2 separate regions of the Homo sapiens genome follow, and region 2 is reported to be linked to region 1. Evidence: microRNA targets listed by miRTarBase, many of them from high-throughput screens and not tested one by one. Region 1 holds a microRNA gene; the other region holds the end of a gene's coding sequence.

Region 1 (5,174 bases):
CTGTAGTCCCACCTACTCAGGAGGCTGAGGCAGGAGAATGGGATGAACCCGGGAGGCGGAGCTTGCAGTGAGTCGAGATTGCGCCACTGCACTCCAGCCTGGGCAACAGTGTGAGACTCCGTCTCAAAAAAAAAAAAATCAGTTTGCCTCCCATGTAGTCACAAACATTCCCATCCTCCTCACGTATTTGCCATTTTTTTTTCCAGTGTATACCTATGTCCTCCCTATTCTTTAGAGTTTAAGCTTTGGCAATCAAGAGACAAGCTAGTGTATATTTTGCCATTCTTCTAAAACTCTGAAAACTGTGTTACACATGGTTTTGTTCATATTTCTTGGTCCATTTCTTAACAAGAAATTGGTGGTGTAGGACCTAACTTTTTATGTATAGATTTACCTTAGGAAACAGGATTATATGGTGATTCATTCAATAAAGTCTCAATTCTCAAAAGAAAAAACAAATAAAGGAAAACACTTGCCAGCTGTTCCACCATCTGCGCACATACCCTCTGCGAGGGGCTGACAGACACCCACACTGTGTTCCTGAACTTCACACCACGTACAGCAAGTCCTTCAAGGAGGCACTCAGTGCTTTAGGAGGTCCACTGTGGGGTATCTGCCACACACAGAGTGAACACATCACCAATAGCCTCCCTCCAACCATTCCTGGCCGGCTTCTGGGGTGCTGTCTCTCTTCCAGAGCCCAGGGTGTCCTCCTGCAAAGGAAACAGACGGCAAGGGTTAACACACAAGGATACGTACCATCAGAGATGCAAGGCTTCCTTGAGGCCCTCCTCTGACGTACCTGAGGTGATGGAGGCAACAGTGACCCTCTCCTGACATAAGCAGCAGTGAGAGCAGAATCCCCCCTCGATGGGAGACAAGGATCTGGTCGAAAGAGAACTGTCCATGTCGCGTCATCCAACAACTGTGCTTCCCCTTCCACAGGGGACTCAGAGCCAGTGTCCCCTCCAGAGGTCCTCAGGCTGAGGGTCCACCGGCCAAGTGGCACGTGTCATATACAGACTGTGGGGCCTGCCTTCTGCTCCCACAGCTGCACCTTCCCTGAAGTGGGCACCCCATCATTTAGAAAGGTGGCACTCAAATGAGTAAAACAGGTTGACTATGCAGGCCACAGCTTGGACAGCCTTTCTTGATGGAATGTCCTGACATGAAGACCGGTGCTGCTTCTCCAAAGTGTTTCTGCCACCGGGAAGTTCTCTGGAGGGAGGCCAGAGCCCAAAGGATGGGTGGAGCAGCTGCCCACTGTCTGAAGGGCACCTGCTGAGGCCAGCATGGTCCCAGTGTCACCAATGGACTGCCGTTAGCATCTCCTTCCAGAAGTGGGTTCTGACCTTTCCCGATGGCACATGATTCTCAAATAGAAGTGCACCATATTTTTCATCATAAATAAAGGGAAAAAACACAGATAACCTCTCCTCCAGTACCAAAGTGTAGCCCGGAGAGCAGTCCCACAGCCTCTAGTTCTGGCTGGCAGAGCTCCAGGAAGCCCTCCTGGGGGACAGGGATGCTGAGGTTCGGGGGACAGGGATGCTGAGGTTCAGAGGACCAGGTGGCCGTGGGGATGACGCGTATGCTCTCTGGGCAACACCCATCACTCACCCCAGAGAGCTGCTGATGCCACCAAAGCTCCCAGCTCAAACAGCCTTTCCCTTCAAGTGGGATTTGATACTGAAAAAAGAGTGGCCAAAAATGATTCGTCACAAATAAAATGAACACACTGGGGAAACCTCTTCTCTTCCAGGGCCCAAGGATGGACTGAATGTGGGGACTGGACACCCGGACAGCAGTGTCTTCGGGAAGGCATGTGTTCTGCCGTCAGCCATTGTTCACTGCTCCCGATTTGGGGCAGACACCAATGTCAGACACCATCTCTCTGATGCTGGTGATCAAGGAGCACATCTCTCAGAGGCAGAACTGGCACCTAGAAAGAGTGGGGCGGGGGCTGGGCGCACTGGCTCATGCCTGTAATCCCAGCACTTTGGGAGGCCAAGGTGGGTGTGGATCATGAGGTCAGGAGTTCAAGACCAGCCTGGCCAACATGGTGAAACCCCGTCTCTGCTAAAAATACAAAAAATTAGCTGGGCCTGGTGGCGGGCGCCTGTAATCCCAGCTACTTGGAAGGCTGAGGCAAGAGAATCGCTTGAACCTGGGAGGCAGAGGTTACAGTGAGCCAAGATCGTGCCATTGCACTCCAGCCCAGGAGACAGTGCGAGACTCTGTGTCAAAAAAAAAAGAAAGAAAAAAAGAAAAGAAAAGTAAAGAAAGAGCGGGGCAGGGAGGATTAGGCTCCAGTAAATCACCACTCTGAGAAATCCCATCTCCCAGAACCACAGGGACGCCTTCTGCCACAATTGCTACCCCCAATCAATTCTTCTGTGGAGGTGCGGGTGGCAGTCCCCCAGATGGCATGTCCTCATGTCCCCTTCAGCCATCCCCTCAAGCCTCTGGAGAGAGCGGATGGGGGCAGGGGTCTTCATTGCTTATTTGTTTTTGTTGTTGTGGCAGCTGCTTCCTTTTTTATTTTTTTCTTGGCTGCTATGATCTGAACTCTTCTCAAATGTTGGGGAACGCTTCTCAATGGAGCCTGGAAGTGCATCTCCCCAGCCTCCCTGGCAGCGGGGAACTGGCATGTGGTTGAGGCCTCGCCAACTGTGCCTGTCCGAGAGGTGGGCGTGGACTGAGGACTGAGGACTGAGCATGGTCCCTGAGCCCACCAACACACAAAGTCACCGAGGGGCTGCCAGGACAAATCCTCCATGTACATACCAAGAGAGGTAGTGACACCAGGTCCCATGCTCAGGGTCCCGTCGGGGATGGAGGCACTTCAAGGAGATATTTGATACCGAAAAAGAAGTGCACCATGTTTGTTTCGTCACATATAAAGCGAAAATAACATGGGCAACTTCTTTTCAGGTACCAGAGATGAGCACGTCCTCCCTGCCAGAGGCACACCTGGGCGTGAAGGGACACTGAGGGTCAGGGCGTGAGGGCAGGGCCGGGCAGACGCTGCCAATCAAACTTATGCTCAATTAAGCCTAAAAGCATCAGGTAAGTTGGCTCACCCCAGGGGAGGTGGGGGACATGCTTCGAAGGGCTGGGCTGACACTGAGCAGAGGCGGACAGTCATCACGGATAAAGCAAACCGATCCCAGACTCCCTCTACTTCGGGATCCCAGGAAGTCTTCATGGGCAGAATTCAATAATCAGGGCAGACGGCTTTCGGAATGTTTACTATCAACCCTGCAAATGCTCATGGAGAGCATCACTTCAGAGAAAATGGGATGGTCCTGGACCCAAAAATAGAATCTCCTCCATGAGCCCATGGTTCCAGGAAGGAGATGGGAAGACAAAGATATCGAATCAGGAGAAACAAACCACCAAGGCAGCCCCGGCTCTCGGTGGACCCATCTCTCTGTGCACCTTGCATGGTGCTGACCACTGCACCTCCTCTCTAAAGTGCTCCGGGTTCCCTGGAGGCATGGCTTGGTTCTAAAACACTGACAGTTAAGTGTGAGTTGTGACAAATACAGCCAACCCACAGAGAGCCAAAGGACAGCAGGGGCCAGGAAAGGACAACGGCTTCCCCAAGTCCACATCACTTGCAGGGCAGCCTCCCAGAGAGAGGTGGATTCGAGGGAGAGTGAATCGGGGCAGAAGTTCTGGGGCCCACCATCCATCAGGCCTTCCAGAGAGGACCCAGTGACCCATTGCTGGACACAAAACACGGTAATTGTGCATCATTTGTCAACCATAAATTAAATCACTAAGACAAAGCTTTGAAAGCATAAGTCCATAAGAAAAGTCACCTTCCACCAAAACCCTGCCTTAAATAGGACACTGAAGATAGATAGGCAAACCGTGAGAAACACATCATTGAAAAAAATGCAGGCTTTCCCAGTCACACTGGAAAACACACTGTGGTATCATCTGTTTGTATTGCAAGTAAGATAAGATCTAACTCCAACTGGCTTAAACAAGTAAGGGATTTATAGACGTATATAACTAAAAAGTACAGAGACAGAGCAAGCTTCAGGCAGGGTTTGATCTAGGGACTCAAATGATATCATCCAGGCTCTTCTCTAGGTCTCCAAGATGCCTTTCATGGTACAGACTCCCTCTGCTGTGTCTGCGTGGCACCAAGCCCTCTCCTCTCAGTCCTTAAACGGCTGTGGGACCTTCGAAGCTCACGTCAAAGTTCACTGTCTATTCCCAGCTGAATGGAATAGACAGTGTCTACTCTGGCAGCTATCACAGGAAAGGGAGAAACAGTTTCTTTCCCAGAAGCTGCAGCAAGCATCTCCTTGCCTATCACTGGCCCAGTGGGGTCATGGGCCTATTCCGGAAGCAATTGCAGTGGCAAAGGAGAAGAGATCAAGAGATTCGCTTAAGCCTGGGCTGGTGGAGGAAGTGGGGCAGGGTCAATGCAATCAAAGCACACGGCGGGAAGACGGGAGCTTTCATAAAAAAAAAAAAAAAAAAAAAAAACAAGGAGAAATTTAGGAAGGAGAAAAGACATGGGGTAGGGAGGTCCTGATCAGCGTCCACTACAGGGGCCCATGTGCCTTCCCTGAAGTTGCACCCAAACCAAGACGTCTTCAAGGCAGAATAGGATACTGAAAAAGAAGTGCACCGCGAATGTTTCGTCACAAATAAAGCGAAAAAAACACGGGCAACTTCTCATTAAGTACCGCACGTCAGCACCGTTGACAACACTGCTTCTCCGCGGCTGGTATCACTCCTGCGGGCTTCCTGAGAGCACATGGGTCCTGATGCGCACCGGGCAACCGGTGACAAAGATATGGCCGTGCATACAACCCCCTCAAGACCTGGGAGACATCTAACAGGTCTGCCCCCTCTGCACAGGTGGCATTGTGTCCTGGAGCTGCTTGTGAGCACGATGTGTTCAATTTCTCAATAACAAAAAGTCTCCTCCAGTAGCACAGAATATGACAATGGCACAGAAACAGTGATTTTGCATCCTAAAAGTCCTCCTGAGGATACATGAGGAGGGACCAGGAGAGTCACAATAACTCCCCAGATAAGATGGATGAGATCTACCACCCACCCTTTAGGGACAAACAGCAAAGTGTCTGCCCTGATGGAGCCTCTGAGCCAAGGGAGTCGTCATAGAATGGGTAGCGCAAGGGATTTTT
Region 2 (5,000 bases), not on the chromosome of region 1:
GGCGGGGCCAGGAACCGGCTGATCCGGTCTCTGTTTTCCGACCTCTCCGGAGCGGGTGTTTACCCGGGAGCCGGACGGAGGAGGCCGGGGCCGGTCGAGCCCGGAAGGGGGGAGGGGAGCGCAGTCGGAGACCGAGGCTGAGACCTTTTCGGTTCCTTTCCCCTAAATCGACTTCCAACCCTCGTTCCTGAGCGTGGGAGAACGCGGCAGACAGACAGATGTCTCCCGCCCCTTATCCTATCCAGTTCCGCAATTCACACTCGTTGCCAAAGAGTGGGGAGCGGGAATGGATACACCCGGGAACGACTGCACGTCCTGCGGGCGCCCGGGGAAGAAGGCAGCGCAGCACAAAACCTCTCCTGCGGTCACCTCCCACCCCATCCTGCACCTGAGTTCTTGCGGGGAGGGGGTGCCCACAGCAGGTCGGGCCCAGAGGATCCGGCAGGGGTCACTTTGAGGTGTACGGACTAGGAGTCTATCCTCAGAACGCGTCAGCTCGACCCCATCCCCGATTAATACCAGTGCGGGTCTCAGTCTCTTGTCCCTCGCGTCCCCCAGCCCTCTCCAAGGCCTCCAGATTTAGCTCCCACTCTCCACGGGACGCAGGCCCGAGGACCCGGAAGAAGCTGAGTGGGGTCCGGTTTTCACACTTTTATTGTAAAGCTCGGGAATAATTACACGGGTCTTTCATTGACAGCTCAGCAAACAAACCGGAAACGAACCGAACCGGAGGGGGTAGGGGCGGTGCCTGCGCATGCTCGCGGCGGGGTGGGGGGGGGTGGGGGTGGGGGTGGGGGGGTCAGAGAAAGAGAAAGACAGAAAGAGACAGAAATCATTACAAATCAACGGGATTGTGCTCGCAGCGCCAGGGATGGGGTGGGGTGGGGCGGGGCGGGGGCCCTTCCCGGGAGGAGCGAGGCAGTGGGAAGTGGCACGAACCAAGAGAAACACGACCCCAATGTGGGCACCCGACGCGCCCAAAACCCCCCACCCCGACCCCCACCCCCCTACACACGAGAGAGACACGGCCCCCCTCCCCACTAGATAACCCGAGGAGACACAGTCTCCCCTCCCCATGGGCAGACACACCCGCCCGAAACCCCATGGGCGGGACACAGTCCCCCCTCCCAGAGAAGTCCCCAGTGGAGACGCCCCTTAAGAGACTTTCTCATGGCCAACACAAGCCCTCCCAACACCCGGAGACAGCCCCGACCCAGGGAAGAAATGGCTCCAGAGGCCCTACCCTCGGGAGAGAGAGGTATCCCAGGGCTCCTAGGAGAAAAGACAACTCAGAGATGCCCAGCCTCATCCTAAAGTGCTGCAGGGCAGAGAAACCCCCATAGGAGAGATGGGGGTAGGGCCAGAAACATCCCTTCCCAGACGTGTTTCAGAGATAGCCCCCTTCCCTGGGAAGAGAGATGGCCCGAAACTGACTTGCCTTAAGTACTCCCAGGAACCCTGGGAGGAAAACAGGCTCCCCAGAGAGCCTGGGTAATTGGGGGAGACATGCTCCCGTGGTCCTCAGCGGGAACACATGTCCCCCGGAGACTCCCAAGGGGAGAGATAGGGCCTAGAGAGACCCCAGAGGTGAGGGATGCCCAGAGAACTTCCCCCCACCCCGGAATGTGAAACATGCTTCAAGGACCCTAGGAGAGAAATATGTCCCCATATACCCTCCCCCTACGGAGAGACATGCCCTGAAGTAGGGGGATGGGGACCGACTAGGTCCCCTCTGGGAAGACACAGACTGGGTCAGGCTGGGTTTGAGGGGGGCTCTCCTCTGGCCAAATGTCGCCTATTGGTACATAAAACTGTACGCGACACAGGCATTGGGGAGGGGCTTCACAGACCTAGGACCCACAGGGATAGTCCCCAGTGCTGTCGCCAACCCCTGCCCACCTTTGGTTTCATCTCTCCAGTGCCCAGTTGGTGACAGACTCAGTGCCCTGGCCCCAACCAGGGGGCTGGGGGCTCTGTCTTTGCCTGTGGGAAGGGCTTCTCAGCTCTCCCAGCCATCTGGGCCACCCTCTTTCTTCTGGCTTCTCCATTGTGCAAAATGCTCCTCTGCTCTTCTGCTCAGTGCTCAGGGGTCTCTAAGACCAGGGCAAGGTACCCAGGCCACTAGGGGCTTCCAGTGGGAGTCCACTGACCCCAGGAATGCCGCCTGTCTGGACCACCTTCTCCACCAAGCAAATGGGCCTCATACAATCTTCTTGCCCGAATCCTGACCTCCAGGACCCAGGACAATCCTTGAGGCCACTGTTCCACCAGCTGGGCACCCAATACTACCAACTCCAAGACTATTGCACCTGCCCCATTTGTGCAGGGGAAAGGGGCTGTCTCTTTAACAAGCCCCAAGCCCATCTCCTGGGCCTCCCCAAGGGAAAGGAGCCTTTGGCCAACCCCTAGACCTGGCTGCTGCCACCCCATCCCATTCTACCCCTTCCCCTCTGTAGAAGGGCTTCGTATGCCAGGGCTACCAGCCTAACAATGCTCTCCTTCCTAGCACTGTCACCCCAAGCCAAGTTGGGGGTAAGGGGCAGATAAATAGGGTGATTCTTCAGGCCCCTGGCTTTTCCGGGGTGGGGGTGGGGTCTCTGGGGTACAAGAGTCAAGACCCCAGCAGCACAGCTCCCAAAGGCACCAGACGACCCCGCAGCCTGTACCCACCGCTCGCAATCTTGGACCACCTCCCCAAGCTTAGACTAAGTCAAGCAAGGGCCATACCCTGAGTCTCCAGCCTCCCAGCCTGGGCCCCTAGGGAGCTGGAGAGGTATGGGCCAAGGCAGTGGGGGTTTCTGGAAGGAAGAGGGGCTGAGGCTTTGAGATGGCCACAGTGGGAGACGGGGGCTCTGCAGGACGCCCCTTACACCCTGGCCCCCTGAGGTGAAGAAGAGAACTTCACCTCATCATGGCTGACTGGGCTTCTCTGCCCCCCAACCTCCCTACCCCCTCCCCCATGGGACCCCTGACCCTGACAAAGGGAAGCCCAACTGGAAGAAGGGGGCCTGGAGCCCAGGGTGCCCTGAGGCAGCCCTCCCACCCCCTGAGATCAAGGCAATGGTGGTTTTACAGGCTGACGGGTCAGTCATGGCAGGGGCTGGGGGTTGAGAGGGCAGGGAGGGGGCAGGATGCAGGCCCCCTATATCGGGAGCAGCACCCAGCCACCCCCTGAGCAAACCTTCCTGCTCCCAACTCACCCAACCAGGCCAGAGGCACAGTCATCCCACCCCTGTCCAGCTGCCCCCCACAGCCTCAGGGCCCCTCTGTGATGCTCATCTGGATGTGGGAGGCCAGCCTGAGCGGGGATCCCCCCAGGGCACAGCGCAACAGTTCCAAAAAAATAGAGATTTGTATTTTTAAGAAAAATTAAATAAAAGCCCAGCTCTGCTGATAGGCAAATGTTACCCCCGTCCCCACCCCCACCCACCCGTTGTTTCCCTGGCCTGCACCCCCATCCCACCATGGCCCCAGGGGTATTTACAACATGGAACAATAGAGGCCTGGGTTGGGGGGCACTGCGGCAGGGAGGAGGGGGCACAGGGCAGGTCCCCCCCCAGAGGGGTCCCCCAAGACAACACGACATCAACAAGAAAAGTTGCAAATCAGGCAGAAATGGGGACGTCATTCCAAGGTCCTTATATACAGACACTGCATGACCAGCAGGGAATGGGGGCCCAGATGGGACTAGGCGTGGGCATGTGGCAGGCAGGTGGGCCAGTCCAGGAGCAGCACGGGAAAACAAGGCCTCCGCTCCACTCCCACCCCCGTCCCTACCCCACCTTTGGTAACAAAAGCCCTTCAGGGAGCCACTGGTGGTCAAGAGTTTCCTCTGGGAGCTCCCAGGGAAAGGGGCTCCCCAGTTCAGCCCTGCTTCAGGGCTAAAATTGGGCATGCTATCCCCGCCCTGGTCGGCCATGAGGGAAACAATGAGTTAGAAGTACGCTGCCCACCCTTGACTCCACCATCTGCCCAAATCGAGGGGGTGCTCCCTGGAAGTCAAGGGAAGGAGCCCAGTCATTGCAGAGGAGCCCTCTTGGGCATCAGATGGGGGAAGCCCCATAAAGGGGAAGGGGCCCCTGGGGGCTGGGAGATGGAAATGAGGGGAGAGGACCTGGACCCTGCATGGGAGAAGGGCCAGCGTGGTCATGAGGTCAGTGATACCCCCACTTGGGGCCCTGGCCAGGAAGTCCACGCTGAAGGGGTGGAGAGTGAGGCCCTGGAATGGGCCATTTGGGAGCTGGCCGGCGGCTGGGGGAGGGGGGCCGGCCGGCCAGTAGGGGGCTCACAGGTAGATCTCGCGCTTGGCCGTCTGGGCAGATGCCGGTGTGGCTGCGGGTGGGAAGTCCGAGGTCTGGGTCAGGGGGATTTCCTCCAAGGTGGCCGAGTCCTTGCAGGAATCATGGCTACTGTGGGAGAAGGCACTGTAGGAGGGCAGGAGGCGCACGGGGGCCGTTTTGGTGTTCCGGTCTTCCGGGGGGCTGGGGCTGCCGGCGCCCGCAGGCTCCTGCCCTCCTCGGTCCTGGTAAGGCACGAAGGTGGAGAGTTTGAGGGCGCTGCTCTTGGTCCGGCGGCTGGGAGATGACTGGCCAGGCATCCAGCATGTGTCAGAGTGGCCAAACTCACTGCACTCCCGGGTACATGTGCCTGTCATGGCGACATCAGGCAAAGGGCGAAGGTCTGTAGGAGGGAGCGGGGAAGGACAATTGTCAGACATACAGCCTCTGCAAAGCTCTGCTTCATGGCCTCCCACTGGCATCTACACCCCACCTCAGGACAGGAGTATGCGCCCCTTCCTGACCGCTGAACTCACAGGCACACACACCCTCAAAGAGACACATGCCCTCCCACCATCGACCTACTGGCCTACTGTACACACGCACACGCACACACACATAATCTATCTTTTTTCTTTTTCTTTTTCTTTGTTTTGAGATGGAGTCTTGCTCTTGTCACCCAGGCTGGAGTGCAATGGCGCAATCTCGGCTTACTGCAACCTC

What was found. Region 1 holds the annotated microRNA hsa-miR-495-3p (AAACAAACAUGGUGCACUUCUU, at 2,870-2,891, opposite strand). A microRNA usually pairs through its seed, bases 2 to 8, with sites in the 3' UTR of a target mRNA and lowers its output. Matches are read on the target gene's strand: a 7mer-m8 pairs with bases 2 to 8, a 7mer-A1 pairs with bases 2 to 7 and ends in A, and an 8mer does both.
Region 2: the mRNA of PCDH1 is a reported target of hsa-miR-495-3p. Seed matches in the 3' UTR shown: 7mer-A1 at 3,789-3,795.

What each region holds. Positions count from the first base shown.
Region 1 is chr14:101,031,521-101,036,694 of GRCh38, reverse strand. It overlaps MIR495 (microRNA 495), which reads right to left and starts at 2,940; the gene lies at 2,859-2,940. LOC124903407 (mucin-2-like) reads right to left here. Exons shown (of 5, transcript XM_047432049.1): 5 at 2,213-5,174. It overlaps MIR543 (microRNA 543), which reads right to left and starts at 4,708; the gene lies at 4,631-4,708.
Region 2 is chr5:141,849,757-141,854,756 of GRCh38, forward strand. It overlaps PCDH1 (protocadherin 1), which reads right to left. Exons shown (of 5, transcript NM_032420.5): 5 at 3,334-4,680. The coding sequence ends at 4,286. Among named protein-coding and RNA genes, the nearest start is that of PCDH1, 26 kb to the right of the region's middle. RefSeq lists an enhancer at 1-269 and a silencer at 1-169.